Linked DNA regions of Homo sapiens. The protein of the gene in region 4 interacts with the protein of the main gene of each other region in a pairwise test. Each region holds a gene or a part of one and is shown on either strand. Other genes may lie near its edges. The genes, in order: ZHX1-C8orf76, PNKD, ZNF444, PAK1, GIT2, GRB10 and SYNCRIP.

Region 1 (4,508 bases), on a different chromosome or scaffold from region 4:
TATTATGATGTATTATATTTCTTATGCTAATTAAGCATAAAATGTGATATTTGAGACTTAGTTTGCTGTAAATTATAACTTAATACTTAAATGAAAATGCTTTTAAAATTATTAAAATGATCACAAATGTAGCTGAGGAAATAACCCTTTTATTTGTGTTGCAGCATTGTGGATTTGGGCCCAAAGACTTTACTTAAATAAACAGTGTTGAAAGTTCAGCACCTAGTTTTTAATCTAATATCATAGTCAGTGCAATTATTCAGAGAGATTTTTGGAATTATCTATTGTACTGTTTATGGTGCTAGCCAGTAATACACATTTTTTAAATCATTATAAATATTTATTTATGTTGTGATAAGCACATTTACTGTTAAGACTAAATTTTTTGAACTTAAAATCCTTTTAAATAATCCTACGTAGTTTCAAAAGTAAGTTATAGTTCTGTTTTTAAAACTGATACTATCTTTAGAATAAGAGCCAATGTTTCTATACTATTATTGATAAATTTTATTGTATCCTTGTTGCTCTGATATATTTGTAGTCATCAATAACCAGATTTGCATGACTAAAGTTGCTGACTTAGATTATTAATCAGAATATACATTTGAGTTTACATTTTGGAGATCTGCATTTTATACAGGATATTCTTAAAGTAAATATTAATATGTAACTTTGTATGTAGTTGCCAGGTTTTGATCTTAAAAGATACTTAATCTTGGCATTTTATACAATCAGTTTCCAACTTAAGAGGTAAGACTGTATACCTTTGGTCTAAACAAATGTGATGATATACTTTGTAAAATAAGTATATATGAGCAGTTTAAGAATTATGTTTATTCAAGGGAGCCAGTTGAATACATTTTTTTTTTTTTTTTTTTGAGACGGGGTCTCATTCTGTGGCCCAGGCTGGAGTGCAGTGGCATGATCATGGCTCACTGCACCCTCAAACTCCTGTGCTCAAGCGATCCTTTCTCCTCAGCCTCTTGAGTAGCTAGGACTACAGTCATGTGTCACCCACGCCCGGCTAATTTTTAATTTTTTTTTTTGTAGAGATAGGGTCTTACTGTGTTGCCCTAGCTGGTCTCAAACTCCTGGCCTCAAGCAATCCTTCTGCCTTGGCCTCCCAACATGCTGGGATTACAGGTGTGAGCCACTGCACTCAGCCAAATAAATCATTTTTAATGCAAGATTTTAATTTTCAGTTCTTAGTTTTAGATTTTAAAAAATATTATCAGAATTTATCTTAACAAAATTAAAATATCGAAGTCATAGCCATATCATATATTATTGTAAATAAAATAACTCTTTCATTAAATTTTGGTGATTTCCTATTTCTCAAGATTTCTAACTTCCTTTTTCCCCTTCTTAAAAGTCTTTTCCTTTTTTGTTTTTTAGTGAGAAATGAAAGAAGATAGGAGGTTCTGATATTTCTAAGCACTAAACTAATAATTATATTTTTCTTCTAAGTTTATTCTCTTTTACCATCAATATTCTTAAAAAGAAGTTTGTTAAAATTTTGCTAGACATGGGCTATACTTGGGAGTGGGGAAGATCATGAGAACAATTTCTCCTCGTTACTATGATAAAATTACTTATATCAGATGTTTGCTAGTTCTATGAAATACCCCTTAAATATGTCATACAGTAATGATTTATTTTGAAGCTAAGGTCAGAAAAAGTTTGTGGGGGGAGAGGTTAAATTTGATTGATTAGTATCTGCCTTTTGAAGCCAACTTGTTCCAGCATGATTTAATATGCTCAGAGGTATGAAATGGCAAATAAATTTTGTTGGTTGGTTGTTACCCAGATTCTTAAAGTATTTTATCACTTGTCAACAGTTAGCAAATTTTAAAGAAAGATTTCTTTGCTAACATTCATTGTGTTCTAAGTACCAAGGAATATTCCAGAAACTTTACACGTGTTACCTATTCCAATCCTCACAACAACCCTATTAAGTAAATAGTATCCTATTAATATTACCAGTCCCATTTATAGATGATGGGGCTGAGGCACAGATAGGCTAAGCCATTTTTCTAAAGTCACACAGCTAGTAAGTGGCATGCTGTATTTGAACCCAGTCTGTTCCAAATTCCAAGCTCTCAGTCTTTTTTTGTAATCCATCTACTACCAGAACAGCTTGTTCTGTTTTATTATATAATGTACATAGCTGAGATGAGCTCTTTAATTTTTGGAATTCACTCATACTAAATTAAGAAAAATACTTTGAATTAGATAGAAATGTTCTAAAGTAATCCCAGTATCAGGAACTTAAATAACATCAGGCAACTAGGATTTTCATTCAAAAGCACTGATGAGCTCATTTTTGCTCCTCTGGTATCCTGGTGCCTTTACATGTCTTGGCAGCTCTTCTCAAGAGACTCATTCGGTAAAATATCTTGCAATTACTGTGTGATTTTAAGAATGGATTGAAGTAGGTTACCAGATTCCTAAAGTATTAATAATTCATTTTGGAAAATAACCTTCCCTCTTTGGCAGCTGTTTCCTATCTTCTCTTCTAGTCCACATCCTGTAGATTGATGGCTAACGAGTGGCGGAACAAGGAGATACCAGGAAATGAAACTGTAGAGTCCCAGGCTACAGAGATAATAAGATGCTCCACTGGGCCTACCAGGAAAATGCTCTTTTGCTTTTCATGAAAATAGTGTACTTATTCAGCCTAAGTTTTAACCTAACCTAGAGGTATTTTACTAAAGGACTGGTGTATTTACATTATTTCTTGATGTGAGAAGTTTCTTCATAAACTTGTATGTAATAGTAGCAGGAATAAAAAAATAAGGTTAATTGGGAAAATACTCTTCCTTAATATTTATTCATTATAGTTTACAGAGAATAGTGCTTAAAGAATACAACAAAAGGCCGGTTAGGGATCATGCCTGTAATCCCAGCACTTTGGGAGGCCAAGGCGGGCAGATCACTTGAGCTCAGGAGATAGAGACCATCCTGGCCAACATGGTGAAACCCTGTCTCTACTAAAAATACAAAAATTAGTTGGGTGTGGTGGCGTGTGCCTGTAATCCCAGCTACTCGGGAGGCTGAGGCAGGAGAATCGCTTGAACCAGGGAGTCGGAGATTGCAGTGATTCGATATTGCGCCACTGCACTCCAGCTGGGCGACACAGTGAGACTCCATCTCAAAAAAAAAAGAATACAACCAAAATGCTTTAACCCTTCAAAAGTGTTATTTATGACTGTTCTAGTAAGAAAAGCAATTGTAGCTTTATTAAACTTTTCTGATGGGTTTAACTGATCTAGATTATATACAACAACATATTTGGACAGTAATTGAATTTTCAGAGAATTATTTTCTGTTTATTTGATTGCATGATGTTAATACTTCACAGTGCACTGATTGTAAAGCCATTTGGTAGTAGCTTTCAGGCAAAAACGACATGGCTAAACACCAGTCATTTTGTTAGATAACCCCATGTTTGTAGATCAAGTACTACTAGTTTGTTTAACTTGTTTTGGCTTGTGTTGTCAGCATTAATAATCCTCTCCATTCTGATTAACATAATAAATTAGGATACAAATATCACTAGGTTTATGTACTAACACATAAACATATACAACTACTCCCATTTCTTAGTTTAACTAAATTGTCTTCATAACCTTTGTATACTTATTTATTTATTTATTTATTTAGAGTCAGAGTTTCGCTCTTGTTGCCCAGACTGGGGTGCAATGGCGCAATCTCGGCTCACTGCAACCTCTGCCTCCCCGGTTCAAGCGATTCTCCTGCCTCAGCTTCCCGAGTAGCTGGGATTACAGGCATGCGCCACCACGCCCAGCTAATTTTGTATTTTTAGTAGAGACGGGGTTTCTCCTTGTTGGTCAGACTGGTCTCAAACTCCCAACCTCAGGTGATCCGCCGGCCTTGGCCTCCCGAAGTGCTGGGATTACAGGTGTGAGCCACCGCGCCCGGCCGGTATACTCATTTTAAAGAACTCCCAATTTCTGCATCTCAATTTTCACACTAGAGACGGCATATATTCACGTTTTGAAATTTTATTCAAAATGGTCTAATAGTTATTTAGTTGTTCTATATGATATAAATAGAGTTTTTTTAATGTGTAGTTTTTGTGTTTACTACCAATATTAGGATTGGTATTTAAATGGTTCTTTTAAAGTTTTGATGAGGGAATAAACTTTTTTTTTCAAAATTACATTTATTTATTAAAAGCTAAGGCATTAAATTGTAAAAATTTCCTGACTAAGGCTAAATTATATCTAGAATAATAAAATATGACTTTTTTGTAGGAGAAGACAGACTGCTGCTTTGGACCTGTTGGTAATGATGGCCTGAGCTAAACATCTAACTAGAAGGGATACCCTTCCATTTCAAAGAACAGAATGCTAAGGAAGCTGTGGCAAGTATGTGTTTCATTGTTTTGGTATGGTAAAACTCAGATACTGAATGTACTCACTTTAGATCCCATGATACTATATTTGTCTAAAGTTTTTAAAAGCTTTCCTTAAAAAGCAGCAGAC
Region 2 (4,508 bases), on a different chromosome or scaffold from region 4:
GGTGGTGGGTGCCTGTAATCCCAGCTACTCGGGAGGCTGAGGCAAGAGAATCACTTGAACCCGGGAGGCAGAGGTTGCAGTGAGCCAAGATCGTGCCACTGCACTCCAGCACGGTGACAGAGTGAGACTCCATCTCAAAAAAAAAAAAAAAGTTTGGAAAAAATAGCCATTAAAAGTACTAAAATATGAAGCTTTTTTTCTTCTACAATCTCTATTTTGACCTGTGATGTTTTTAATTTGCTATTTAATGTCATTCTAAGTAAGAAGCATTTAAATTATTAGCAGGAATTTTACCATTTGCTTAATATTGTGCAATGCCTGTTTTAAATACAAATATAAGGACATTTAACTCCTGTAGAATCACAGAAACGACATAATTAATATTTCTTAGCTTATACATGGATGTGTATTTAGTTCTTACCAGGAGAGGGTCTCCTCTGTCACTCAGACTGGAGTGCAGTGGTGCAAACATGGCTCACTGCAGCCTTGACCTCCTGGGTTCAAGTGATCCTCCCACCTCAGCCTCCCAAGTAGCTGGGACCACAAGTGCATGCCACCATGCCTGCCTAATTTTTGCATTTTTAGTAGAGACAGGGTCTCGCCATGTTGCCCAGTCTGGTCTCAAAATCCTGGGCTCAAGCACTTCTTCCATCACCACCTCCGAAAGTGCTGGGATTACAGGAGTGAGTCACCACACCTGGCCTTCAATTCTTTTTTTTTTTTTTTTTTTTTTTTTCAGACAGAGTTTCACTCTTGTTGCCCAGGCTGGAGTGCAATGGTGTGATCTTCTTGGCTCACCGCAACCTCCGCCTCCCAGGTTCAAGTGATTCTCCTGCCTCAGCCTCCCAAGTAGCTGGGATTACAGGCGCCCACCACCACACCCTGTTAATTTTTGTATTTTTAGCAGAGATGGGGTTTTACCATGTTGGCCAGGCTGGTCTCCAATTCCTGACCTCAAGTGATCTACCAGCCTCTGCCTTCCAAAGAGCTGGGATTACAGGTGTGTGCCACTGCACCCAGCCTTCAATTCTTTTCTTTTTTTTTATTGAGATGGAGTCTCACTCTGTCGCCCAGGCTGGAGTGCAGTGGTGAGATCTCGGCTTACTACAACCTCAGCCTCCCAAGTAGCTAGGATTACAGGCGCCTGCCACCACGCCCAGCTAATTTTTGTAGTTTTAGTAGAGATGGGGTTTCACTATCTTGGCCAGGCTGGTCTTGAACTCCTGACCATGTGATCCACCTGCCTTGGCCTCCCAAAGTTCTGAGATTACAGGCATGAGCCACCGCGCCCGGCCTTCAATTCTTAATACGTGCACATTCTGCCAGCACTGTTGGCTTGCTAGTTAATAAGGAAGGATGGAAAGGAAAAGGATGGATTGGTTACCCTATCTTCCCTTTCCTTTCTATATCGCTATTTGCAGCATAAATAGGTGGATAACACAAAAGCAAGAAAGGATGCAGCAGAGTTCCTTGGTCATTCGTGTTTCTTAGAACACCTCTGTCTTTGTGCACTTGAAGCACGTTCTAGTTTGAACTGAAAGCTTGGCCTCTTGGGTCAGTCATAGGTGTGCACTCGCCTTGTACTTGCTTTGAGTCTTGTTGAACTCCCATGCGTTGTGTGTCCCCCAGATTTGTGTGCTCATGGGCATTGCAGACTCTGTATAGGTATGATAAGCGAGGAACGGAGCACACTCACTGTGTGTGTCTCTTGCTCCCTGCATGTCCCACTGTCCTATCAGGCTCCACTTGCAAGACACAAGGTCAAAGATAAAATCATTAAGAATTTCAGGGTCGGGCACGGTGGCTCACCCCTGTAATCCCAGCACTTTGGGAGGCCAAGGTGGGCAAATCACGAGGTCAAGAGATCGAGACCATCCTGGCCCACATGGTGAAACCCCATCTCTATTAAAAATACAAAAATTAGCTGGGTGTGGTGGTGCACGCCTCTAGTCCCAGCTACTCAGGAGGCTGAGGCAGGAGAATCGCCTGAACCTGGGAGGCAGAGGTTGCAGTGAGCTGAGATTGCACCACTGCACCCCTGCCTGACGACAGAGTGAGACTCCCTCTCAAAAACAAACAAACAAACAAAAATTTCAGGCTTGGCCAGGCACAGTGGCTCACACCTGTAATCCCAGCACTTTGAAAGGCCGAGGCAGGCGGATCACCTAAGGTCAGGAGTTTGAGACCAGCCTGGCCAACGTGGCAAAACCCTGTCTCTACTAAAAATACAAAAAATTGCCGGGCATGGTGGTGTGAGCCTGTAATCCCAGCTACTCGGGAGGCTGAGGCAGGAGAATCACTTGAACCTGGGAGGTGGAGGTTGCAGTGAGCCGAGATTGCACCACTGCACTCCAGTCTGGGCAACAGAGCGAGACTCTGTCTCAAAAAAAAAAAAAAAAGAATTTCAGGTGGGACACGGTGGCTCACACCTGTAATCCTAACACTTTGGGAGGCCAAGGCAGGAGGATTTGTTGAGCCCAGGAGTTCGAGACCAGCCTAGACAACAAACTGAGACCCCATCTCTACAAAAAAGATAATTGGGATTACAGGTGCCCATCACCACACCCGGCTAATTTTTGTATTTTTAGTAGAGACGGGGTTTCACCATGTTAGTCAGGCTGGTCTTGAACTCCTGACCTCAGATGATCCACCTGCCTCGGCCTCCCAAAGTGCTGGGATTACAGGCGTGAGACACCACACCCAGCCTCAGATGATTTTTTTTTTTTTTTTTTTGAGACAGGGTCTTGTTTTGTCACCCAGGCTGGAGTACAGTGGTGCAATCATGGCTTACTGCAGCTTCACCCTCCCGGGCTCAAGCAATCCTCCTGCCTCAGCTACCTGAGTAGCTGGGACCACAGGCGTGTGCCACCACGCCCAGCTATTCTTTTTTTTGTGTGTGTAGAGACCCTATAGGGCACAATGTTGCCCAGGCTGGTCTCGAACTCCTGGGCTCAAGTGATCCTCTCTCCTTCCCTCCCAAGGTGCTGGGATTACAGGTGTGAGCCACTGTACCCAACCTTCTTCAGATGATTAGGATGCATGCTAAAGTCTGACCACCACTGTTCTTTCTGAAATATTTTTTCTACCTCATTTCAGCCTCCTAATTCCTACTCCTTCTTCCCTGCAAATGTCACTTCATCAGAGGTGCTAGACCCTGGGCTAGATTAAACCCCTCACTCTCCAAGTCTCTCTTTTTTTTTAGACAGAGTCTCACTCTTTGGCCTGGGCTGCAGTGCAGTGGTGCGATGCCCAATTCTCCTGCCTCAGCCTCCTGAGTAGCTGGGACTACAAGCGTGTGCCACCACACCCGACTAAGTTTTGTATTTTTAGTAGAGACAGGGTTTCGCCATGTTAGTCAGGCTGGTCTCGAACTCCTGACCTCAGGTGATCCGCCCACCTCGGCCTCCCAAAGTTCTGGGATTACAGGTGTGAGCCACTGCGCCTGGCCTCTCCAATTTTCTTCTGTGAGTTCCTCAGTTCATGTCTCCCTGATAGATTTTGAGTTCTAGGTGTGTCCGTCTCATTCTCCATCTTGTCCTGAGTGCTAAGCAGGGCAAACAGTAGGCACATAATAAGTGAGAGTGGAATTGCATTGGCTCACAGGGTCACCAAAGGAATGGAGATGTGGGGCCTGCAGGCATCACGAAGGAGTCTAGGGGAGCTAGGGAGAAAAGGCTAATCATAGGCCACCCACTCGCCCTCTAGGTACAGCCTGTACACCCGCACCTGGCTCGGGTACCTCTTCTACCGACAGCAGCTGCGCAGGGCTCGGAATCGCTACCCTAAAGGCCACTCGAAAACCCAGCCCCGCCTCTTCAATGGTGAGCTCTGACTGCCCCGGCCAGCATCCCCCATTCTGTGCCCCCACCCTCCCCGCCTGCTCCCCTTCACATACCCCAGCCCCTGGGCTCCCTGCCTGTTACCCCGCCCACAGCCCATCTCTGTCCCCAGGAGTGAAGGTGCTTCCCATCCCTGTCCTCTCGGACAACTACAGCTACCTCATCATCGACACCCAGGCCCAGCTGGCTGTGGCTGTGGACCCTTCAGACCCTCGGGCTGTGCAGGTGAGGGGAGGGCAGGGAGCAGGGGGTGCCTGGAGTCACCTTGGGGACTGGCAGTTTCGCCTTGCTAGAGAGGGCTGACCCTTGTCCGTCTGCCCGTGGGATGTGTCCCATATGCTCCATGTTCACACGTGCACATGCGCACACATAGCCTGGGGAAGGGGGGTACAGGGCATGGCTGGGCAGAAGGGGAGAGCAGGAGTGGGGGATGCAGAGCCAGAGGGCTGGGGGTGTTGGCCCAGGACTCTGGGTCTAGTGAGTTTCCAGGCTGGCTTTCACTCCCATTGGCCCCCTTCAGACCCCCTTTCTTTCTGTCACCTCTGTCTGTCAGTATCTGGGTCTCTCTGTCTTTCCCTCCCATTCCTTATCTCTCTGTGTCTGCCTCTCTCTATGTACAAGTGTCCCTCTGCCTCCATGTGCCCCGTGCTTCACATTCCTGGATCTCTC
Region 3 (4,508 bases), on a different chromosome or scaffold from region 4:
AGGCCTGGGTGTGCAGCCGGCAGCCGCAGAGCGGGGAGGAGGCGGTGGCCCTGCTGGAGGAGCTCTGGGTGAGCCTGGCGGGACTGCAAGCGGGGAAGGGAGAGGGGAAGGTGCCAGGGAAGCCACCAGGAAGCCCAGGGAGGAGCACCACTGAACCCCTGAAAACCAGTGTGACTCGCGGTGGGGAGGCTGCGGTACAGGCTGCGGTACAGCGTGGAGGGACAGTCCACGTGCGGCACCCTCCATCCCCACACCAGCTGCAAGTCAGGAGGGCCCCAAGACCCTGGCATACTTGCGAGTTCTCTAGGACTCACAGCCGTGTTCACGGTCACGGCTTATCAGAGAAGGACGTGCTGGAAGCAGCTGGGAAGAAGGCCACGAAGGCTCCAGGGAGCGCAGTTACCAGCTGTCCTCTCCCCGCACCCCGCCCGCACGCAGGGGGTCTTGCCGGCCAGGAATTCTCCTCAGACCGTGGTGTCCTGGGTTCTTACTGGGGACTCCTCCCCGTTCTGTGTGGCTGACCTCAGCCTCCCGCCCCCTGAAAGTCAAGGATACCCCCTGGTCCAAACTCTACCCCAAATTCATCTTGCTTTTGGGCTGGCCTGAGTCCCCCGGGGCAGGCAGACCCTCCTTATCATGCGTGAGGCTCCAAGGGCTCAGAGATGACTTCCCAGGGGCAGAGGGCAAAGCCAGGCCTCTCTGGGCAGGTTTGGTTTCTTGACCACACAGCAGGCAAGGGCCGACTCACGTTCTGGGTGAAGTCTTGGTGCACAGCCACACCCACCCACTCATGTCACCTGGGGCTGACACTTGCCACCGTGATGACCACAGAGGGCCCGAGGAGCTGGAAGTGTTGACTGCCTGGCCCCGTCAGGGAAGTTGCCAGCCTGGCTTAGAGTCCTGTCGGGGGATGTGTTATGTGAGCTGCACATGCCATCTTAAGTGTTCTAGTCAGCACGTTAAAAAAAGGCAAATTTACTTCATGGACCCCAATGTGTTCAAAATACCATCCTTTCAGTAGTGGCACTCTCCCATGGCTGGTGGCTGCTGTGTGGGGCCTGGGTGATGAGCGGTGGGCAGCCACGCAGAGACCTCTGAGAAGAGTGGTCCAGGCCACGAGAGCAGCCAGTGCAAAGGCCCTGAGCCACCTCGAGCGGCACAGGGGCCCTGAGTGAGGGGGTGTTTGCGGCCAGGCCTGAGTCCCCAGTGGCAGGAGGGTGAAGAGTCAGAGCAGTCGCGTGTTCCTCATAAGTGCGTACCGAGTGCCTGCTGGGTGCTGAGATGTAGCAGCAGAGAGGGGGCATCTCGGTGAGGCAAAGCGAGCAAAGCCTTCAGTCCATGGCAGCCGGGCGGCCTTCCTTCCTTCCAGAGGGAGCAGCTCCCGTCAAGGCTGCCAGTGGCCTCATCCGTCTCCCTTCTCATGCGGCCCGACCAGCCCCCAGACACTCCCCCCTCTTATTGTCTGGGATACAGCTCGCCCCTCCTCTGCTCCTGCCTCCTGGCACCTCTGTGCTGGCTCTGGCTTCTCTATCCTCGCCCTCCTTCCGGGTCATTGTTCCCAAAAGTGGGTTGTAACAAATCACAAACGCAGCGGCTTACAAATCACAAACGCAGCGGCTTAGAAATCACACAAGTCTGTTACAGTTCTGGAGGTCAGAAGTCCAAAATGGTTTGGTCTCATGGCCCAAAATCGAGGTGTCTGCAGGGCCACGTCCCTTCTCAAGTCTCCAAAATCAAGGTGTCATCTGCAGAGCCACGTCCCTTCTCAAGGCTCTAGGAGAGAATCCGTTTCCGGCCTTTTCCAGCTCCTAGAGGCTGCCCGCATTCCTCGGCTCATGGCCCTTCCTCCGTCCTCAGAGTGCTGCACTCCGACCTCTGCTTCCATCCCCCATCACTCCTCCGACCTTGACCTCTGCTTCCATCCCCATCACTCCTCCGACCTTGACCTCTGCTTCCATCCCCCATCACTCCTCTGACCTTGACCTCTGCTTCCATCCCCATCACTCCTCCGACCTTGACCTCTGCTTTCATCCCCATCACTCCTCCGACCTTGACCTCTGCTTCCATCCCCCATCACTCCTCTGACCTTGACCTCTGCTTCCATCCCCCATCACTCCTCCGACCTTGACCTCTGCTTTCATCCCCATCACTCCTCCGACCTTGACCTCTGCTTCCATCCCCCATCACTCCTCTGACCTTGACCTCTGCTTCCATCCCCCATCACTCCTCTGACCTTGACCTCTGCTTCCATCCCCCATCACTCCTCTGACCTTGACCTCTGCTTCCATCCCCCATCACTCCTCTGACCTTGACCCACTTAGGTCCTGTGGTCACTTATTTATTTATTTATTTATTTTACTTTAAGTTCTGGGATACATGTGCTGAACGTGCAGGTTTGTTACATGTGCCATGAAGGTTTGCTGCACATACCAACCTGTCATCTAGGTTTTAAGCCCCACATGCCTTAGGTGTTTGTCCTAATGCTCTCCCTCCCCTTCCCCCACCCCCCGACAGGCCCTGGTGTGTGATGTTCTCCTCCCTGTGTCCATGTGTTCTCATTGTTCAACTCCCACTTCTGAGTGAGAACACATGGTGTTTGGTTTTCTGTTCCTGTGTTAGTTTGCCAAGGATGATGGCGTCCAGTTCATCCATGTCCCTGCAAAGGACATGAACTCATTCTTTTTCATTGGTGCATAGTATTCCATGGTGTACTGTGGTCACGTCTTAGGTCACCTGTGATGACATTCGGCCCGTCAGGATAGTTCAGGAGAGTTTCCCCATGTCAGTGCTTAACTCCCTCCCATCCACAGAGTCCTTGTTGCCCTGAGACAGCAGATGACAGGTTCTGGGGATCAGACCGTGTACATCTTTGGGGCCATTATTCTGTCTGCCACAGAGGCGAGGTGAATGCAAGGTGAAGTGGGGGTGGAACAGAACCAACGTGGAATCTGTGAGCCTCGGGGTTTCGCCCTTTCCAGTTTCCATGACTCCTCAGAACAGGACCTGGCACATGGGTGCTGTCTAGGTAGATTTCAGCCACTGTTACCACTCTGAGCTCATGCCATCTGTTTTGTTGGCATTAAAATGTTCTTTTAGGAAAAGATGGTAAAAGTAGGTGGTGGTTATTGTTGCTTTTAATGTATATATCTTGCAAAATAAAAAAAAATCTTCCATTCGGGGATGCAGTGAGAGTTCTGTTGGTTCAGTGAATCTAAAAGTCGGGAAATCACCAGGCTCCAGGCCGTCGGGACTCTCCTGCGTTCTCTGCTTGCTCCGAGGCGAACCTCTCACTGTGGCTCTGGGATGTCTTTAGCATCTCTCTTGTATCTGTTACTCTCTCTTTTTAATAAGGGCAGATCTCAGGTTCAGAGCCTTCTCCTATCAGTGTCCACACAGACGGGAATAACACTGCCGTGAGTGATGGAATTTCCCATGACCTCTCTCTCTGGCACATGATACTGGCTTTCCATTTCCAGCAATGATACAACATGGTCTTAAGTCAGTGTTATTTTAGTTTTAGGTAAAAGTAAAGAAGAGTAATAAGAGCCTGGGCGATAGCCATTGTAGCTGACGGTGGTGTATAGACAGCTGACATCTGGGGGCGCTGCTGTGGATTGGGGTTTCTTGGCATCTGGTCTGTGGGAGCTGACGGTGACGCATAGACAGCTGACATCTGGGGGCGCTGCTGTGGATTGGGGTTTCTTGGCATCTGGTCTGTGGGAGCTGACGGTGGCGCATAGACAGCTGACATCTGGGGGCGCTGCTGTGGATTGGGGTTTCTTGGCATCTGGTCTGTGGGAGCTGACGGTGGCGTATAGACAGCTGACATCTGGGGGCGCTGCTGTGGATTGGGGTTTCTTGGCATCTGGTCTGTGGGAGCTGACGGTGGCACATAGACAGCTGACATCTGGGGGCGCTGCTGTGGATTGGGGTTTCTTGGCATCTGGTCTGTGGGAGCTGACGGTGGCGCATAGACAGCTGACATCTGGGGGCGCTGCTGTGGATTGGGGTTTCTTGGCATCTGGTCTGTGGGAGCTGACGGTGACGCATAGACAGCTGACATCTGGGGGCGCTGCTGTGGATTGGGGTTTCTTGGCATCTGGTCTGTGGGAGCTGACGGTGGCGCATAGACAGCTGACATCTGGAGGCGCTGCTGTGGATTGGGGTTTCTTGGCATCTGGTCTGTGGGAGCTGACGGTGGCGCATAGACAGCTGACATCTGGGGGCGCTGCTGTGGATTGGGGTTTCTTGGCATCTGGTCTGTGGGAGCTGACGGTGGCGCATAGACAGCTGACATCTGGGGGCGCTGCTGTGGATTGGGGTTTCTTGGCATCTGGTCTGTGGGAGCTGACGGTGGCGTATAGACAGCTGACATCTGGGGGCGCTGCTGTGGATTGGGGTTTCTTGGCATCTGGTCTGTGGGAGCTGACGGTGGCGTATAGACAGCTGACATCTGGGGGCGCTGCTGTGGATTGGGGTTTCTTGGCATCTGGTCTGTGGGAGCTGAC
Region 4 (4,508 bases):
AGCATTTTCTAATTTATAGAATCTGCCTTTTGAATCTTTTGGGATGGCAAATGACAATGACAGTATATGCATGGCTTCCACCCTCATCTGCCTGCCTATATCTTTAAGGTCCAGCTTTCCTTATTTCCTCCTGGATTCCCACAAAGCTAAGATTGATGTCTTCCTCACTGGTGGAACCCTTGATTTGTGTATTACTGCACTTACCAAGGGAGGGTTTAAGGAAGAGCACAAAATTTGAAGTTAGACAAAGAGCTACTTGGACACTTATTTAAATCTCTATTTGTTCATTTGAAAGAAATAATACCTAACTTACAGAATTCTTGTGAAGATTAATAATATATGTAAAAGTGAATTGTAAGATACTGAGCTATATAGATGTTAGGTAGAGTAGTTTGTAATTTTATGACTATGATTGTGTGTAGCAGTGGTTTTAATTTCGGCTATGCACTTGAATTACTTGTGAAGATGTAAAGAGTTGCCTTGGCATCTCTATTTTGAAAGGTTTATAGGTGATTCTGATATGCAAAGTTGAGAAGCACTGCCTTATATTAACAATGTTTTGCATAAATGTCTTATGTAAGTATTATATGAAAAGTAATATTTTATTGCCATTTAAAGTTCATTCATTTGCTAAATACATATTATGCATCAGGCATTGTCATAGGTTCTGAATAAACAGATGAATCATAGCCTCTACCCTTGGGTTTATAGTTTCCGGGAGAAACAGACATGTGCATAGACAATTACACTACATTGAGACAAAAAATGACAAAAATATGGAGATAAGTGCAAGTGCCATGTGAACACAGAGGAAGGGCATCTGCTGCACTTGAAATGGGGGTGGCCTGGCAAGCATTCTTAAAGGAGGTGACATCTAAGATGGGTTCTGAAAAATGATCAGGGGTTAACGAAGCACAGTCAGGGAGGGGTGAGAAGAAAGGGGAGATGATGGACCCTCTTGAAAGAGAGAGCAATATGTGAGCAGAAGATTTGAGAGCCTGTTTGGGGAGCCCTGTGTAGTTTAGTATGCTTAGAAGATAGGGTGTAAAGTGGGGAGGCGTGAGAGCAGAGAGGAGGCAGGGCCCAGATGATGAAGGGCCTTTTGTATAATGTACAAAATACTTTTACTGATATTATCTGACTTTATTCTTTGGACAATCCCCTGGGTTAGCTAGGACAGGTGTTGTTTTATATTCATTTGATAGAAGAAAACACAAAGAGGTTAATTGACTTGCTGAGGCTATACAGCACAGCTAAGATCTGAAGCCAGGTTCTTATGATTGTTTAGTTCATCATGCTTTTTCTATTACACCATAGCCGTCTTAGACTTTTGCGGTGTGGTAGGGAATCAGGTAAGCTCTGTGGATATATGCACAACAATTTGGAAGCTGTAATGTGCTAGACTGATGTTGGCTAACTCATTTTACAGATGAGGAAATTTAGGAGCAGAGACATCAAGCTGTCATTTGAAGACTTTTTTTTTTTTTTGAGATGGAGTCTTGCTCTGTCGCCCAGGCTGGAGTGCAGTGATGCGATGTCGGCTCACCGCAAGCTCTGCCTCCCGGGTTCACGCCATTCCCCTGCCTCAGCCTCCCAAGTAGCTGGGACCACAGGTGCGTGCCACCATGCCCGGCTAATTTTTTGTATTTTTAGTAGAGACAGGGTTTCACCGTGTTAGCCAGGATGGTCTCAATCTCCTGACCTTGTGATCTGCCCGCTTCTGCCTCCCAAAGTGCTGGGATTACAGGCGTGAGCCACCTCGCCCGGCCTTGAAGACATTTTTAAAAATTATTACTGTGTAACCACAGCAAGTCACTTAACCGTCCTGAGACTCAGTTTTCCTTAGCTGTCATATAAATGTGTTGAATTTGATGCCAACTTCTTTGCTTGAATATTTCGACAGTGATTCTTAACCTTCTCACCTACTCCCTGCCCTCACCCTTTCTCTGTGATACACTGGGATGTAGTCCATCAGTAACAGTATTTCACTATGGAAATAGTTCCCAATGGGCTACAGGAACAAAATGTAAATTGCCAGTTTTGGGGATGGGTAAAGAGGGACTTGGTATAGTTGGAGGGGCTCTTGGTTCTCCAATTACCTGTTAGAGAATTACTATTAATATTTTATTTATTTATTTTTTTGAGACAGGGTCTTGCTCTGTCATCCAGGTTGGAGTACAGTAGCTCCATCATAGCTCACTGCAGTGCTGCCCTCCCGGGCTCAAGCAATCGTCTCACTTTAGTCTCCGAGTAGCTGGGACCACAGGGGCATGCTACTAAGCCCAGCTAATTTTTGTATTTTTTGTAGAGACAGGGTTTTGCCGTGTTGCCCAGGCTGGACTCAAGTGAACTGCCCGCCTCAGCCTCCCAACGTGCTGGAATTACAGGCATGAGCCACTTTGCCCGGCCAAGAATTACTATTTTATAACATTCCCTCCCACTTATTTTCTCATATGGAATTATCTCACCAGTCCAGAGTCTGAGATTTTTTTGGTATCCAGGATAGATTTTGCTTAATTTAATAAATTACATATGTAATTTGTAAAGTAACTTAAAAAAAAATAAAGAACCAGGTGAGCAAAATGAGAAAGCCCATTGTGATAGACTTGAAAAGTCCAAGTTTCCTGGACTTTCTAGAGATTATATATAGGATTATATATATAATTTTTGTGCTTTACTGTTTTCAAAACCCTTTTATATAGAGTCTCATTTAACTTAATTCTGTTCTTTAGCCATCATATTTTTATAAATGAACAGAAGTTAAGTGGCATGATTATGTAGCTGGGAAGTTACAAACTGGAATCTTTAATTCATATTTTCTGTCTCCAAATCTGGTCACCTGTTCCTGATCATTTGGGTGCTGCCCTGACCAGTGGCACTTTTTAAAAAATTGTAGGTTCCTAGGAGAATGGTAAAATATATTTATAGTTCCCTCTAACTCTTTCAAAAAATCGTTTTTTTACTATCCATTGCCACTTGCCGGATAATTGACTTAGTTGACTATGTGGTAAAGGTTCCAGGACAGTTAGGAATGGCTGCTGAGTATATTCTTCACACACACACAGACACACACACAGACACACACACACACACACACACACTCTTTCATGTATGTACCAATCCAATACAGCTGGTCCCTGACTTACAGGGGTTCAACTTAATGATTTTTCGACTTTATGATGGTGTAAAAGCAATATGCATTCAGTAGAAACCATACTTGGAATACCCATCCAATCACTTTCAGTGCAGTATTGAATAAATTACATGAGATATTCATCACTTTATTAAAAAATAGACTCTGTGTTAGATGATTTTGCATAACTGTAGGTGAACGTAAGTGTTCTGAGTATGTTTAAGGTTGGGTAGGCTGAGCTACGATGTTTGGTATGTTAGGTGTATTAAATGCATTTTTGACTTAAAGTATTTCAGTGTAAGTTGGGTTTATCAGGTCGTAACCTAATCATAAGTCAAGGAGCATCTGTACAGCTCTATAGTGCTTCTATTTATTCCTTAATTAGACTACACATATTTATTGATTTCTTCCTGTGTGCCAAGCATTGTACTTAGTACTAAGGATACACTCATAAATAATACAGACATGGTCCTTGTCCTTGCTCTTACAAAGATTACATTCCAGAGGGTAATACAGAGAAAAGTAAGTAGATATACAAGTGGACAGTTGCAGATTTTGATAAGTCCTACAAAAGAGATAAAGGACTAATGTAGAGAATTTTGGAGTGATAAGGAAAAGACCTCATTGAGGAAATGATGCTTTTAAACTGAGATGTGCATGATAAATAGATTTTAGTCATGCAGAACACTGAGGGGGAAAAAGCATGTCAGGCAGAGGGAACATTTTAAATGCACAAAGGCCCTGAGAGTAGGTAAAAGTTTAGAGATGTGCTGCTCAATATGGTAGCTACTTAGCCAGTGTGGCTGTTGAGCACACTGACTGATTCACATAGAGATGCACTGTAAGTGTAAATAAAATACATACCAGAGTTTGAAGACAATACTGAAAAAATAATGTAAAATAACTCATTAACTTTTTATATTGGTTATATGTTGAATTGTTAATATTTTGAATATATTGGGTTAAATGTATTTTAAAATTAATTTCACCTCTTTACAAACTTTAAAATATGGCTACTAGAAAATTTGAGATTACATATGTGGCTTTTCTTTAAGGCTAACCGTATCTTTCAGTTGGATAATGCTGGTTTACCTCAACATAGAGGAACTAAAAAAAATTATGGCTGTTGTATAGGAAGCAAGAGTAAATGGTATGAGATGAAGTTGGAGTGGGAGGAAGAGACCTTTCAAAACGCTACCCTGTGTAATATCCTAGTTAATCCGAAGGGACTGAGAGGGGATTATCAAGTCTGATTTTATAGATGGAGACAGTAATTGCCAAAGTCTCTCTTCTCCTCTCTAGAGTGCTAGAATGAGGAGATGAACAAGCACTTTTAGCATAGTATCTTGGGAGTAGAATGCTCTATTTCATTGTT
Region 5 (4,508 bases), on a different chromosome or scaffold from region 4:
GAACACACTTTGTCCCTCCCTGCCTCCTGATCTTGACTCCTGCCTTTCCTCTTACCTGGAATGCTTCAGCTCTCCCTTCACACATTCAAATCCAACCCATTCTTCAAGACCAGCTGAAGAAATTTCTTAAATGATTTGGACCACAATGAAGAAACCCTATATATGCTTTTTAAGACCAATTATCTATTTTGGCAATGAATCCCATATGGTCTTGCCTCCTTGAACTCTTTCAGGCATTTATGAATCATCTTTTCCAAGAGAGTAAATTCTGGGAAGGCAGAGTTTTGTTATTCACCCATTTTATCCTCTGTGGAACAGAGTATTGTGCTTCACAGTTAATAAAAGTACTTTGGAAAAAGAAGGAAAGATGACTGATCTTTGGCCATTTAAATGATATTCAAGACTAACCTATAGATTTATTTTTCAAGGACTTTATTAATAAAGAAAAATTTAAATAATTTTACAGTGAGCACTTTTTTTTTTTTTTTTTTTTGAGACAGAGTCTTGCCCTGTTACCCAGATTGGAGTGCAGTGGCATGGTCTCGGCTCACAGCAACCTCTGCCTCCCAGGTTTAAGTGATTCTCCTGCCTCAGCCTCCCGGGTAGCGGGATTACAGGTGCCTGCCACCATGCCCAGCCAATTTTTTTTTTTGTATTTTTAGTAGAGACAGGGTTTCAGCATGCTGGCCAGGCTGATCTCGAACTTCTGGCCTCAAGTAACCCACCCGCCTTGGACCCTCAAAGTGCTGGGATTACAGGTGTGAGCCACCATGCCTGGCCTAGAGTGAGCACTTAGATGTCTACTACCCAAACCTTACAATTAACTTTTTACTATACTTGTTTAATCACATATCTATGTATATATTTGCTTTTAAGTTCAAGAAATAACTAAGAGTATTAAAAAACAGAAGAGTACATTCTGTAATTCTTGATACTTGATTTGGAATCTGACTACAGCTCAAACATCACTGTGTTATAAAGGATCAAGTAAAAGACTGGAAGCTTAGCACACTGGTTCATGATTCTAGCCTTCCTCAACTTTGCCAGGCTGAGCTTATATGCATTTGAAATGTCTTCATCTGTAAAATAAAATAACGTACATCTTTAAAGGGGTTCAATATCAACATATACAACTTAGCTACTTAACAAGGAATCACACCCAACAAAAAAATCCCAGAGAGAAGTAGCGAGAATCTAGGTCTCTTACCTTGCATAATCAACGGGAGTTTTCCCACTAGAATCCTGTGTGCCTGGGTCTGCTCCATATACTGCCAATAATTCAGCCTGTAAAATCTGCCCTGCTTTGGAGGCAACATGGAGTGGGGTGTTTCCTTTTTCCTAAGAATCATTAATAAAAAGTAGGCAAAAGAGCACATTAAATAAAGGCTACATGAACACAACTCACTTAGTTTCAATATCTGAAGCAATTCATGTTTTCTTACAGGATGAAAGAAGTTGGCTTGTGCTCCTAAAGATAACAGTCTCAAACAGGTTTCAAGATTCCCTGTTCTCACGCTCGAATGGAGTTGCTGAAAAACGCAGAAACAAAAAAGGAATCGTGGTTAGAGGTGTAAAGAATGATGTCCTAGGGCAGCTGATAGACCATTTTAATATATGTTACATCAGTAACGCATAATCTTTATTTGTCTCGGTAAAGTGCATGGACCAGTCTCTCCTTTGCCAGTCACAACTGTCCCTGGGCTGTAAGGTGGAGTGAGGCCACTTTACTGATAAGGAAACTAGGGCTGTGAAGGCTGACTTGCCCAAATGCATGACTTATCTAAGAAGTGGCACAACCAGAACCTGAGTGAGAGGCAGGACTGTGTGAAGAGGTGACTATGCGTGGCTCTGACATACGACAGACCTGAATTTCAAACTATACCCACTTCAAGCTGTGTGGCCTGGAGAAAGGGCTTTAAGCAATCTGAACCTCACTTTCCTCATCTCAAAAATGTCAACAATGGCCAGATGCAGTGGCTCATGCCTGTAATCCCAGCACTTTGGGGGGCTGAGGTTGGAGGATCACTTGAGCCCAGGGGTTTGAGACCAGCCTGGGCCACATAGCAAGACTCTGGCTCTACAAAAAATACAAAAATTAGTTGGGTGTGGTGGCATGCGCACCTGTAGTCCCAGCTACTAAGGAGGCTGAGGTGGGAAGATCACCTGAGCCTGGGCAGTGGAGGCTGCAGTGAGCTGTGATCATGCCACTGCACTCCAGCCTTGGTGACAGAGCGAGACCCTGTCTCAAAAAAAATAAAAAATAAAAAAAATTTTAAAAGGTGGCATTTTTCTTTTTAGAAAGGGTCTCGCTTGCTCTGTCATCCAGGCTGGAGTGCAGTGGAGTGATCATGGCTCACTGCAGCCTCAGTATCCTGGGCTCAAGCAATCCTTCCACCTCAGCCTCCCAAACAGCTGGGACTACAGGCGCCGGCCACCATGCCCTGCTAACTTTTTATTTTTCAATACAGATGAGGTCTCACTATGTTGCCCAGGCTGATCTCGAACTTACGAGCTGAAGTGATCCTCCCACCTCGGCCTCCCAAAGTGTTGGGATTACAGGCATGAGCTACCGTGCCTGGCCCTATTCACAGGGTTATTATAAGGATTTAGTGATATAATAAAGTGCTCAAAGAATACAAATGCTATAATAACAGTTATTATTATTAGTTGTTACTGTAATTAGGGCTTTAGGACTTCAAATTCTACACTGTGTAAGCTACAGGATCCTGCCTTATACAATACCCTCTCTACCACATTATTCTTGGCCTGTATAATATGCTTTAATAAAGTCTTTCAGGGTAGGAAAAGGCCCGTGATATACCGAATTCTGTACTACTGCAGAAAAGCTCTTATACAGTCAGAAGATGAGCTGCCTTCCTTCAAATCTAACCTAGAATTGTCCAAGATGCAGTAACCCTTATCACAGGAATGAAGAAATCTACTCTAACATCTAAGTTTAATTTTTTAAATAGTTTTTTTGTTTTTTAAACACAGGGTCTCGTTATGTTGCCCAGGCAGGACTGAACTCCTTGGCTCAAGCAACCCTTCCACCTCAGCCTCCCAAGTAGCTAGTATTACAGGGATGTGCCACTGTGCCTAATTTTTTAAAACTCTGGCAAGGAAAAAAAAACAAAAAACAAAAAACCCAACACATACCAAGTCTTATTAATCAATGGAAGTAGCTAGTATATGCATTTCTATGCAAAATTTCAAATTCTGAATTCTTCAGCCAGATTCTGCTGGGGATTAAAAAAGGGGGGGGAAAAAAGGCCAGATGTGGTGGCTCACGCCTGTAATCCCAGCACTTTGGGAGGCCAAGGCAGGCAGACTGCTTAAGCCCAAGAATTTGAGACCAGTATGGACAACATGGTGAAACCCCATCTCTCCAAAAAGTCAAAAACTGGCCAGGCGCGGTGGCTCATGCCTGTAATCCCAGTACTTTGGGAGGCCGAGGCAGGCAGATCACTTGAGGTCAGGAGTTCAAGACCAGCCTGGCCAACATGGTGAAACCCTGTCTCTACTAAAAATACAAAAAAAATTAGCCGGGCATGGTGGTGGGCACCTGTAATCCAAGCTACTCAGGAGGCTGAGGCGGGTGAATCGCTTAAACCCAGGAGGTGGAAGTTGCAGTGAGCCGAGATCGTGCCACTGCACTCCAGCCTGGGTAACAGAGACTCTATCTAAAAAAAACAAAAACAAAACACACACACACACACACTAGCCAGGCTTGGTGGCACATGCCTGAGATCTCAGCCACTTGAGAGGCTGAGGTGGGAGAATCATTTGAGACTAGGGAGGTTGAGGGTGCAGTCAGCCATGATTGTGCCACGACACTCCAGCCTGGGCAACAGAGTGAGACTCTGTCGTTTAGGCTGGAGTGCCGTGGCATGATCTCAGCTCACTGCAACCTTCGTCTCCCCAGTTCAAGAGATTCACAGCTGAATTCTACCAGACATACAAAGAAGAACATCCTACTAAAATTATTCCAAACAATCAAAGAGGAGAGACTCCTCCTTAACTCATTCTGTGAAGCCAACATCAGCCTGATACCAAAATCTGGCAAAGACACAACAAAAAAGGAAAACTTCAGGCCAAAATCCATGATGAACACAGATTTTTTAAAAAACTCTTAACAAAATATTAGCAAACCAAATCCAGTAGCACATCAAAAGTTAATCCACCATGGCTGGGCGCAGTGGCTCAGGCCTGTAGTCCCGGCACTTTGGGAAGCTGAAACAGGCGGATCATGAGGTTAGGAGTTCGAGACCAGCCTGGCCAACGTGGTGAAACCCCGTCTCTACTAAAGATACAAAAAATGGCCGGGCGTGGTGGCTTACGCCTGTAATCCCAGCACTTTGGGAGGCCGAGGTGGGCGGATCACGAGGTCAGGAAATCGGGACCATCCTGGTTAACACAGTAAAACCTCGTCTCTACTAAAAATACAAAAAAATTAGCCGGGTGTGGTGGCGGACGCCTGTAGTCCCAGCTACTCAGGAGGCTGAGGCAGG
Region 6 (4,508 bases), on a different chromosome or scaffold from region 4:
AGATTAAATAACTTGGCACATCTGGTAGTGGGCATGGCCATGCATCACGTGCAGAACTGGTGTGATGGACCATATTTTCTCATATTTCACAGAATTCACTGGCTGGGCATGATCCACAAAGTCCTAACCCATCCCAAACCCTGGAACCCTTTCCATGACGGTTTATTCTGATTTGTTCAGGAGACACATTTCTTCTGTTTTCATGTGGAATGGGCTTTGTTCCTCTCACGGCCGGCAGAGGTTAAATTAAAGGGGCCAGAAAATGCTGAGCTGTGACTAGGATTGGGGGGCCAGTAGGCATTTATTGGCCCCGTTTGCTTCTTTCTTCCCTTTTTTTCTCTGCCTCCTCGGTCAGGGGGTCCAGGACTATCTCTCCAGGGGCATTTCTGGTCTGTGGAGACTTGCCTGAAGGCAGCTGGAAGAGTCTGGGCTGAACTCTAGATGCCTCAGGCTCAAATCTCATATTAGTGAGGGAAGAAAATTCTAAATGTGTAAATGGTACCTGTAAGTCACCTACAAATAATTTTTTTCCTTTCCTGTGCAGTGTCTGGGAGCCAGCTTCTGAGTGTTGTCAAGGTAGTCCTGGTGGCTTGAGACTGGTGATGTGCCGTTGCCAACAATGGCTGTGTAATTCTGAGCAGTTGTTCAGCACTCAAGTGGGATGAGAATGGCAAGGAGTGCTCTGGGTGGCTTTTGACAAGGGACCCCGCCTGTCATTCACTCAACAGGTGTTTGAGGAGCCAGTCTGTCTCCGTCATCTGTTCCTGCCTTACTTAGATGGAAAATAATGAAATCTGTGTAGGAAGGGAGGGTGAGTAGAGGGATGGCCTGTGTTGACTGAACAATAAAATAGTGATGTTAATATATTTTGCTTATTTATTTTCTTAAAGGGAGCTGGCACGTTTCAGTTCTGATACAAGTTAAATATTAACAATGTCTGAAAATACCACAACTTAAACTTTAATATGCATGGGAATCTCCTGGGGCTGATAATAAAATGCAGCTTCTAATTTAGTTGGTCTTGGTTGGGACCTGAGGTTTTGGGTTTCTGACCAGCTCCCAGGTGTTATGCTTGCAGTTGGTCAGTGGCCCACACTTTGTGCAGTAAGGTCTTAATGCATTTCCCCCTGTGTTCACTTTAGTGTCTTTTTCTCTAGAAATTCTCTGAAGAGGACACTTTACCTGGTAAGAACTATTATTAATAATGCTATTACTTAATCTAAGAATTTTTGTACCAAGAATTTTCTAGTGATTAGCCCTACATTGTTGTAAATGACATTCTTAAATGTGTCCATACTTTATTCCAGGGGCAAATATTTGTACAGTGTCCTGCTTTGACATTTGTTTGGATTCCTGTGGATTTTATTTAGTGGTTTCTCTTTTGTTTATGATGATAGAACACTTTTAGAAAGGTTTGAAACCTTTTGAATCTTGAGCGGATTTGGAAGCCCCACCTGCCTTCTTTTAAGAATGTAGGAATTGTATCTGCTTTGAGCTTGTGCATGCTAACACCCCACTTCTTCCAAGGTCCTTGCTCAGTGCCTTCATGTCTCAGCATCACAGCCTGGAACCTGGAAGGCCTCCAAGCCATAGAAAGAAGCAATAAAGATGTCCCAGTGGGGCTTCTGGCTGGGGCCCTTGCCTGTTTCTGTCAGCGTTAGCCCGACCCTACCCTTGGAGGTAGGGTTGGGTTGTCCCATTATTTCCCTGTCAGGGTAGGTGGTATTAAAGCAGCTTTTGTCTTGCTTGCACTGTGAGTCTGTTCTGTGTATAAGGCTCCACTGTGTGGATCACCTCTACTTAATGCCACCTTTTGAAAAATTCTACCACCAAAGTTCTTCCTTGGATAGCAAAGACATTTTTGAATGTTTGTATTTGTGCCTGCCCTAGTTGATCAGTAAATGCATTGATGGGCTCCATGGGACTTTGGACCCATTCCTTTGTCATCTTTCATTAACAGTCTTCCTAGGCTGGTGGTGATGTTGGGCAACTTAATGCTTCCTGAAGGTTTTAGATACTACAGGAGCTAATAATTTATTGCCAAATAAGTGAGGAAACTTTGGATTAGATAAAGTTGGTTTCTTTATGGCACAACATTTCAGAAAATTTTGTGTGCCACAATGTATTATGACACTTTAAGAGGAAGATGGCTAGACTATGGTGGTTCCAAATTTTGGGGGGTCGGGGTGGAGTTAGAACCCCTCTTGTGCTGATTATTTCATTAGGCTAGTTTTTTCTTTCTTTAGTTCCGGGATACATGTGTAGAACGTGCAGGTTTGCTACATAGGTATACGTGTACCATGGTGGTTTGCTACATCTATCAACCTGTCATCTAGATTTTAAGCCCCCCAAGCATTAACTATTTGTCCTGATGTTTTCCCTCCCCTCAGTCCCTCTCCCCTCCCTGACAGGCCCTGGTGTGTGTTATTCCCCTCCCTGTGTCCATGTGCTCTCATTGTTTAGCTCCCACTTATGAGTGAGAACATGCAGTGTTTGGTTTTCTGTTCCTGTGTTAGTTTGTTGAGGATGATGGCTTCCAGCTTCATCCATGTCCCTGCAAAGGACATGATCTCATTCCTTTTTGTGGCTGCATAGTATTCCACGGTGTATATGTACCACATTTTCTTTATCCAGTCTATCATTAATGGGCATTTGGGTTGGTTCCATGTCTTTGCTTTTGTAAGTAGTGCTGCAATAAACATAGGTGTGCATGTATCTTTATGGGCTAGTTTTTTCATACAGTCCTCTCTTAAAAAAAAAAGCTGTATTGAGGTATAATTCACATACCATACAATTTACTCATTTAAATTTGAAGTATATAATTCAATTATAATTAGTATATTTACAGATATGTGCAATGGTGTGTGTGTGTGTGTGTGTGTGTGTGTGTATACAGATTGCTGTGGTCTGAATGTATCACCCAAAATTCATGTGTTGAAACCTAATGGCCAACGTGATGTTATTAAGAGGTGGGGCCTTTAGGAGGTGTTTAAGTCATAAGAGTGGACATAGATGGGATTAGGGCCCTTTTAAAAGGGCCTGAGGGGGAATGGGTTTGCTCTCTTCTGCTCTTCCACCATATGAGGATACAGCATTTGTTCCCCTCTGGAGGGTGTGGCAACAAGGCACCATCTTGGAAGCAGAGAGAGGCCCTCACCAGACACTGAACCCCAGTGCCTTGATCTTGGACTTCCTCTCTTCCAGAACCATGAGAAGTAAATTTCTATTATTTATAAATTACCTAACCTGTGGATTTTGTTATAGCAGCACAGACAGAAATTGATACTGAGAGTGGGTGTTGTTATAGCAAATACTTAAAAGAAAAGTGGAATTGGGTAATGGGTAGAGGATGGAACAGTTTGGAAGTGTTTGCTAGAAAAAGCCTAAATTTCTGTGAACAGAGCATTAAGAATGATTCTGGTGAGGGCCCAGAAGAAGAGGAGAGCCGTAGAGATAACCAGTGTCTTCTTAGAAACTTCTAAGTGGCTGTGATCAGAATGCTGGTAGTATTATAGACAGTAAAGCCCGTTCTGCTGTGGTCGTATATGGAAATGAATATCTTATTGGAAACTGGAGGAAAGACAGTCCTTGCTACAAAGGCGCAAAGAACTTGGCTGAATTGTGCCCATACTCTAGGGCTTTGGGGAAGGCAGAATTTAAGAGTGACAACCTAGGATATTTGGTGGAAGAAATCCGTGAGCATAGTATTCAGTATGCTGCATGACTTCTCTTAATTGCTTACAGTAAAATGTGAGAGAAATGAATTGAAAATGGAATTTATAATCCAAAGGGAAGCAGAGGCTGGGCACTATGGCTCATGCCTGTAATCCCAGCACTTTGAGAGGCCAAGGTGAGAGGATTGCTTAAGCTCAGGAGTTCAAGACCAGCCTGGGCAATATAATGAGACCTTATCTCTACTAAAAGTAAAAAAAAAAAAAAATTAGCGGAGTGTGGTGGTGTGCACTTAGCCCCAGCTACTCAAGGGGACTGAAGTGGGAAGATCACTTGAGTCTGGGAGGTCAAGGCTACAGTGAGCCATGATTCTGCTGCTGCGCTCTAGCCTGCGTGACAGAATGAGACCCTGTTTCCAAAAAAGAAAAGGAAGCAGAATTTAAGGATATGGAAAATTTTTAGCTTGCCCAGGTTGTAAAAACATGTTTGGGAGAAAACACTAAGGGTGTGGCCAAGTGACCTTTTGATAAGGAGATTAGTATGGATAGAAGGAAGCCAGATGCTATTCATCAAGATAATGGAAGAATGATCCTGAAGGCATTTCAGAGATTATCAGTGCTGCCCCTCCCATCAGAGGCCCAGAGTACCAAGGCCCAGGGAACAGAACTTATGTCAAAGGAGAGGCCTTGGGCGTCTGCAGGACCTCAGCATTCACTGCCTGGCATCACTTCTCTGCTCTCTGCATTACAGTGCAGCCCTCCTTGGATATCCCAGCTGTAGCTCAAGGGGGCTCAAGTGCAGCTAGTTCCATTGCTGTGGAAGGCACAGGGCATAAG
Region 7 (4,508 bases), on a different chromosome or scaffold from region 4:
GAACTTGTTCCATTATTTGAGAAAGCTGGACCTATATGGGATCTTCGTCTAATGATGGATCCACTCACTGGTCTCAATAGAGGTTATGCGTTTGTCACTTTTTGTACAAAAGAAGCAGCTCAGGAGGCTGTTAAACTGGTAAGTTGTCCTTTTTTCCCCTTCAGTTTTCACGTTCACTGTCTTTAATATCAAGTTTTTTTCTTAGTGTGCCTAAGAGTTTACCAAACATTTTTTGAAGTACTGATTTAGGCAGGTTTTTTTTTTCCCACATCACTGTGCAAGCATTGTAGTGTTATTCTTTGCATGTATAGTTGATAGGATTCAGCATCTAAAAGGCGGCATGGTAGAATTCCTAGCAATTGGTTCTTATAAACATCTGGCTTAGTGACGTTTTTGTGTGTTTGTTTAAATTTATAGGAATGTGAAAAGATTAAGAAAAGTAACTGTGGTAAGAGCTCTCATACTTCCTGGCCATACCTGAGCCATCTCTTTTTCTTAAATAATTCACAAAAGACATTGTGATACATTTCTAGTTGATGAAACAAAAGATTTTATGGTGAGTGGCAATGTTTGATTTAAAAATACCAGATGTTAGGTAAGGACCTGGTAATCTTTCCAACTTTTTTAAAAAGGAAATTTTTCTTTTTTCTTTTCTTTTTTTTTTGAGACCAAGTTTCTCTCTCTTGCCCAGGCTGAAGTGGCATGATTTCGGCTCACTGCAACCTCCACCCCTCAGGTTCAAGTGATTCTCCTGCCTCAGCCTCCCGAGTAGCTAGGATTATAGGCGCCTGCCACCACGCTCAGGCTAATTTTTATATTTTTAGTAGAGATGGGGTTTCGCCATGTTGGCCAGGCTGGTCTCGAACTCCTGACCTCCGGTGATCCACTCGCTTCGGCCTCCCAAAGTCCTGGGATTTTAGACGTGAGCCACCACGCCTGGCTAGAAAGAAATTTTAATATTTTAAATTATAGTTTATGTAAGTCCTTTAAACTAGTTTTATTAAGTTCTGTGACAGAAGTGGTTTCTGCATTTTATAGTTGAAGAGTTGGGGGCTAATTTAAACCCATAGAATGTATCAAGCAACACGACTGGGGAGAACTTTTGTACAAGATAGCTCACTATGCCATGTTTGTTAAATTTGCTTTATCTGGCTTACGTATCCTGTGGGTAATTCCAGACAAACTTAAAATCTTCAGACTCATTTTTTTTTCCCTCCCTCCTGAGTTTTACCCCTTCCTTTACCATGAGGTTTATCACTTTAAGCAAGCCTTAAAGAGAAAAATAAAACTCATAAGTCTTCCTTTTCTTTTTTTTTTTTTTTTTTTTTTTGGGAGATAGAATCTCACTCTGTCACCTAGACAGCAGGAGTGCCATGGTGCGATCTTGGCTCACTGCAACCTCCGCCTCCCAGGTTCAAGCGATTCTCCTGCCTCAGCCTCTCCGGTAGCTGGGATTACAGGCATTTATCACCACACCTGGCTAAATTTTGTATTTTTAGTAGAGACAGGGTTTCACCATGTTGGCCAGGCTGGTCATGAACTCTTGACCTCAGAAGATATGCCTGCCTCAGCCCCGCAAAGTGCTGGGATTGCAGACGTGTGCCACTGCACCCGGCCAAGTCTTCCTTTTCTATGTTGTGTGAATATTCCCCACTGGTTTGCATAATTGAGTATGATGGAAGTTAAACAGTACAAAATTATGTTACTTGAAAGAATATAAGCCTTTACAAAGAGAATTTGAGAATTTAGATATTTTCAAATCATGTCTGATTTTTCTCTTCATAAAAGAGTGCTTTGTGTTTTAGAGGGAATTCAGATTTACTGGTAACCTTTGAGTTGTCAAAATTTTAGTTTCAGCAGTTCAATTTGAGGGGAGGGGCATTTTAGAGCTCTAGAAAGAGGTACCTTAGAAATCCTTTAGTTTGTTTTTATGATTTGTTTTTTGAGACAAAGTCTCTGTCACCCACGCTGGAGTGTGTGGGCATGATCTTGGCTCACTGTAATCTCTGCCTCCTGGGCTCAGGCAATTCTCCTGCCTCAGCCACCCGAGTAGCTGGGATAATAGGCGCGTACCACCACACCTGACTAATTTTTGTATATTTGGTAGAGATGGGGTTATGTTGGCCAGGCCGGTCTTGAACTCCAGACCTCAAGTAATCTGCCCGCCTTGGCCTCCCAAAGTGCTGGGATGACAGGCATGAGCCACTGTGCCTGGCAGGTTGGTCTTGAACTCATGGTCTCAAGCAGTCCTCCTACCTCGGCTTCCCAAAGTGCAAGGATTACTGGCATGAGCCACCTTGCCTGTCCCAAAATCCTTTAATCTCCTATAAAAGAGTAGAATATTTTTGCCAAGTAGCAATAAAGTAGCAGTAAGTGAAAATGCAGAATGATCCAGTAAGCAATGAGGTATCATAACTACAGAAAGCTAATACAGTGGGCTCTCTCTACTGTGGGTCCTGCATTCACAGTTTCAGCTAGCTGAGGATTGAAGATACTCCCAAAAAACCCAATAAAAAAAAAAAACAACACACCAGTGTATGAGAGAATGTTCGTAGGTTATGTGCAAACACTATGCTATTTAAGAGAGTTGAGCATTCATGGATTTTGGTATGGGTTCCTGGAATCAGTCCCCCGTATGTGCTGAGGGACCACTGCAGAATTTAGCTAGTGGTGTCATCCATTTTTTAACATTATGAAAAAGAATCATTAAACTGACATCGTAGGTTACCTAATTCTTGCCGTCAAAATGTACCAATTATGGTAGGTGACCACTATAACTTATTTATAGATGTTTTCCAGAAACTTTACAGTAAAGATACATCATTAGAGGAAGATGGTTTATAATCCATTAGTAACAGTGATTTCGAGTGCCAGTAGACACTAGGAAATGTTTCCATTTGTACAATTGCCTTGTTTAATAAATACGTTAAATTATAAAATTGCATTGCTGTAGGTTGCTTAGAATATAGTCTTATTAATATAGTTTTTAAATATAATGGAGAAACTTCTATAGATAAGCATTCTTTTTGATTGGCGTAGGAATTAACCCTTGTCCTAAAACTTTCTACATTTCTTTCTGGGTTTCTCTGTTGTGATTTGAATCCTTTTCTGGGGGCATAATTATTTTGTACTATCTAATTAATAGGAGACTTTGCATTTTGTTGTCTTTTAAAAGATACTTTTGGCAGGGTGTGGTTGCTCACACCTGTAGTCCCAGCACTTTGGTAGGCTGAGGTGCAAGGATTGATTGAAACCAGCCTGGGAAACATAGACCCCATCTGTACCAAAAAGTAACAGATTAGCCAGGCAGCGTGCACCTGTGGTCCCAGGAGGTCAAGGCTGCAATGACCTGTGATCATGCCACTGCACTCCAGCCTGGGCAACAGAGACCCTGTCTCAAAAAACCAAAAAGGGGGAAAAAAAAAATTTCCAATGGTAGGTATTGGTATACAGCCAGTAGGATATATTGGTCATACCATCATTTGCTTTTTTTGACTTTTTAGTAAGTTTTTTTGAAACGGAGTCTCCCTCTGTTGCCCAGGCTGGGGTGCAGTGGTGTGATCTCAACTCACTGCAACCTCTGCCTTCTGGGTTCAAGTGATTCTTCTGTTTCAGCCCCCTGAGTAGCTGGGATTACAGGTGCACACCACCATGCCCTACTGATTTTTGTATTTTTAGTAGAGATGGGGTTTCACCCTGTTGGCCAGGCTGGTCTCAAACTCCTGACCCCAGTCTCGGCCTCGGCTTCCCAAAGTGCTGGGAGTACAGGTGTGAGCCACCACACCCAGCCTACTTTTAAGTAAATTGTTTATTTTATTTATTTATTTATTTATTTATTTATTTGTTTTTGAGATGGAGTCTCACTCTGTTGCCCAGGCTGGAGTGCAGTGGTGCAATCTCGGCTCACTGCAAGCTCTGCCTCCCGGGTTCACGCCATTCTCCTGCCTCAGCCTCCTGAGTAGCTGGTACTACAGGCACCCACCACCACACCCAGCTAATTTTTTTTGTATTTTTTTAGTAGAGACAGGGTTTCACCGTGTTAGCCAGGATGGTCTCGATCTCTTGACCTTGTGATTCACCCGCCTTGGCTTCCCAAAGTGCTGGGATTACAGGTGTGAGCCACCGCGCCCGGCCTTAAGTAAACGGTTTTAATTATTATTACTGTTTTCGGAGACAGGTTGTCACTCTGTTGCCCTTGCTGGAGTGCAGTGTCATGATCAATGCTCACTAACCTTGAACTCCCGGGCTTACGTGATCCTCCTGCCTCAGCTTCCTCAGCAGCTAGGACTATGAGGGCACCACCTTGCTAGGCTAATTTTTAAACTTGTAGAGGTGGTGTCTCACTATGTTGTCCAGGCTAGTCTTGAACTCTTGGCCTCAAGCAGTCTTACTGCCTTGGCTTCCCAAATTGCTGGGATTACAGGCATGAGCCACTGCGCCTGGCCATTGTTTACTTTTTTTTTAAAAGGATGCTTTACTGTGGGTAGGATCTGGTAGATTTGCTTTAG

Evidence for each region.
Region 1: the proteins of PAK1 (region 4) and ZHX1-C8orf76 interact in binary tests that used the Homo sapiens proteins (3 or more experiments, as listed by UniProt).
Region 2: the proteins of PAK1 (region 4) and PNKD interact in binary tests that used the Homo sapiens proteins (3 or more experiments, as listed by UniProt).
Region 3: the proteins of PAK1 (region 4) and ZNF444 interact in binary tests that used the Homo sapiens proteins (3 or more experiments, as listed by UniProt).
Region 5: the proteins of PAK1 (region 4) and GIT2 interact in binary tests that used the Homo sapiens proteins (3 or more experiments, as listed by UniProt).
Region 6: the proteins of PAK1 (region 4) and GRB10 interact in binary tests that used the Homo sapiens proteins (3 or more experiments, as listed by UniProt).
Region 7: the proteins of PAK1 (region 4) and SYNCRIP interact in binary tests that used the Homo sapiens proteins (3 or more experiments, as listed by UniProt).

Annotation. Positions count from the first base shown.
Region 1 is NC_000008.11:123,267,156-123,271,663, reverse strand, and holds part of ZHX1-C8orf76 (zinc fingers and homeoboxes protein 1), read left to right. Parts: intron 1-4,277; 5' UTR 4,278-4,370; coding exon 4,371-4,391; intron 4,392-4,508.
Region 2 is NC_000002.12:218,336,078-218,340,585, forward strand, and holds part of PNKD (probable thioesterase PNKD isoform 1 precursor), read left to right. Parts: intron 1-3,705; coding exon 3,706-3,821; intron 3,822-3,951; coding exon 3,952-4,064; intron 4,065-4,508. UniProt on the Homo sapiens protein: Probable thioesterase that may play a role in cellular detoxification processes; it likely acts on a yet-unknown alpha-hydroxythioester substrate.
Region 3 is NC_000019.10:56,147,141-56,151,648, forward strand, and holds part of ZNF444 (zinc finger protein 444), read left to right. Parts: coding exon 1-68; intron 69-4,508. UniProt on the Homo sapiens protein: Transcriptional regulator. Binds to the 5'-flanking critical region of the SCARF1 promoter.
Region 4 is NC_000011.10:77,463,583-77,468,090, reverse strand, and holds part of PAK1 (serine/threonine-protein kinase PAK 1), read left to right. Parts: intron 1-4,508. UniProt on the Homo sapiens protein: Protein kinase involved in intracellular signaling pathways downstream of integrins and receptor-type kinases that plays an important role in cytoskeleton dynamics, in cell adhesion, migration, proliferation, apoptosis, mitosis, and in vesicle-mediated transport processes.
Region 5 is NC_000012.12:109,982,166-109,986,673, forward strand, and holds part of GIT2 (ARF GTPase-activating protein GIT2), read right to left. Parts: intron 1,530-4,508; coding exon 1,443-1,529; intron 1,339-1,442; coding exon 1,208-1,338; intron 362-1,207; exon of another isoform or gene 1-361. UniProt on the Homo sapiens protein: GTPase-activating protein for ADP ribosylation factor family members, including ARF1.
Region 6 is NC_000007.14:50,775,812-50,780,319, reverse strand, and holds part of GRB10 (growth factor receptor-bound protein 10), read left to right. Parts: intron 1-4,508.
Region 7 is NC_000006.12:85,632,597-85,637,104, reverse strand, and holds part of SYNCRIP (heterogeneous nuclear ribonucleoprotein Q), read left to right. Parts: coding exon 1-138; intron 139-4,508. UniProt on the Homo sapiens protein: Heterogenous nuclear ribonucleoprotein (hnRNP) implicated in mRNA processing mechanisms. Component of the CRD-mediated complex that promotes MYC mRNA stability.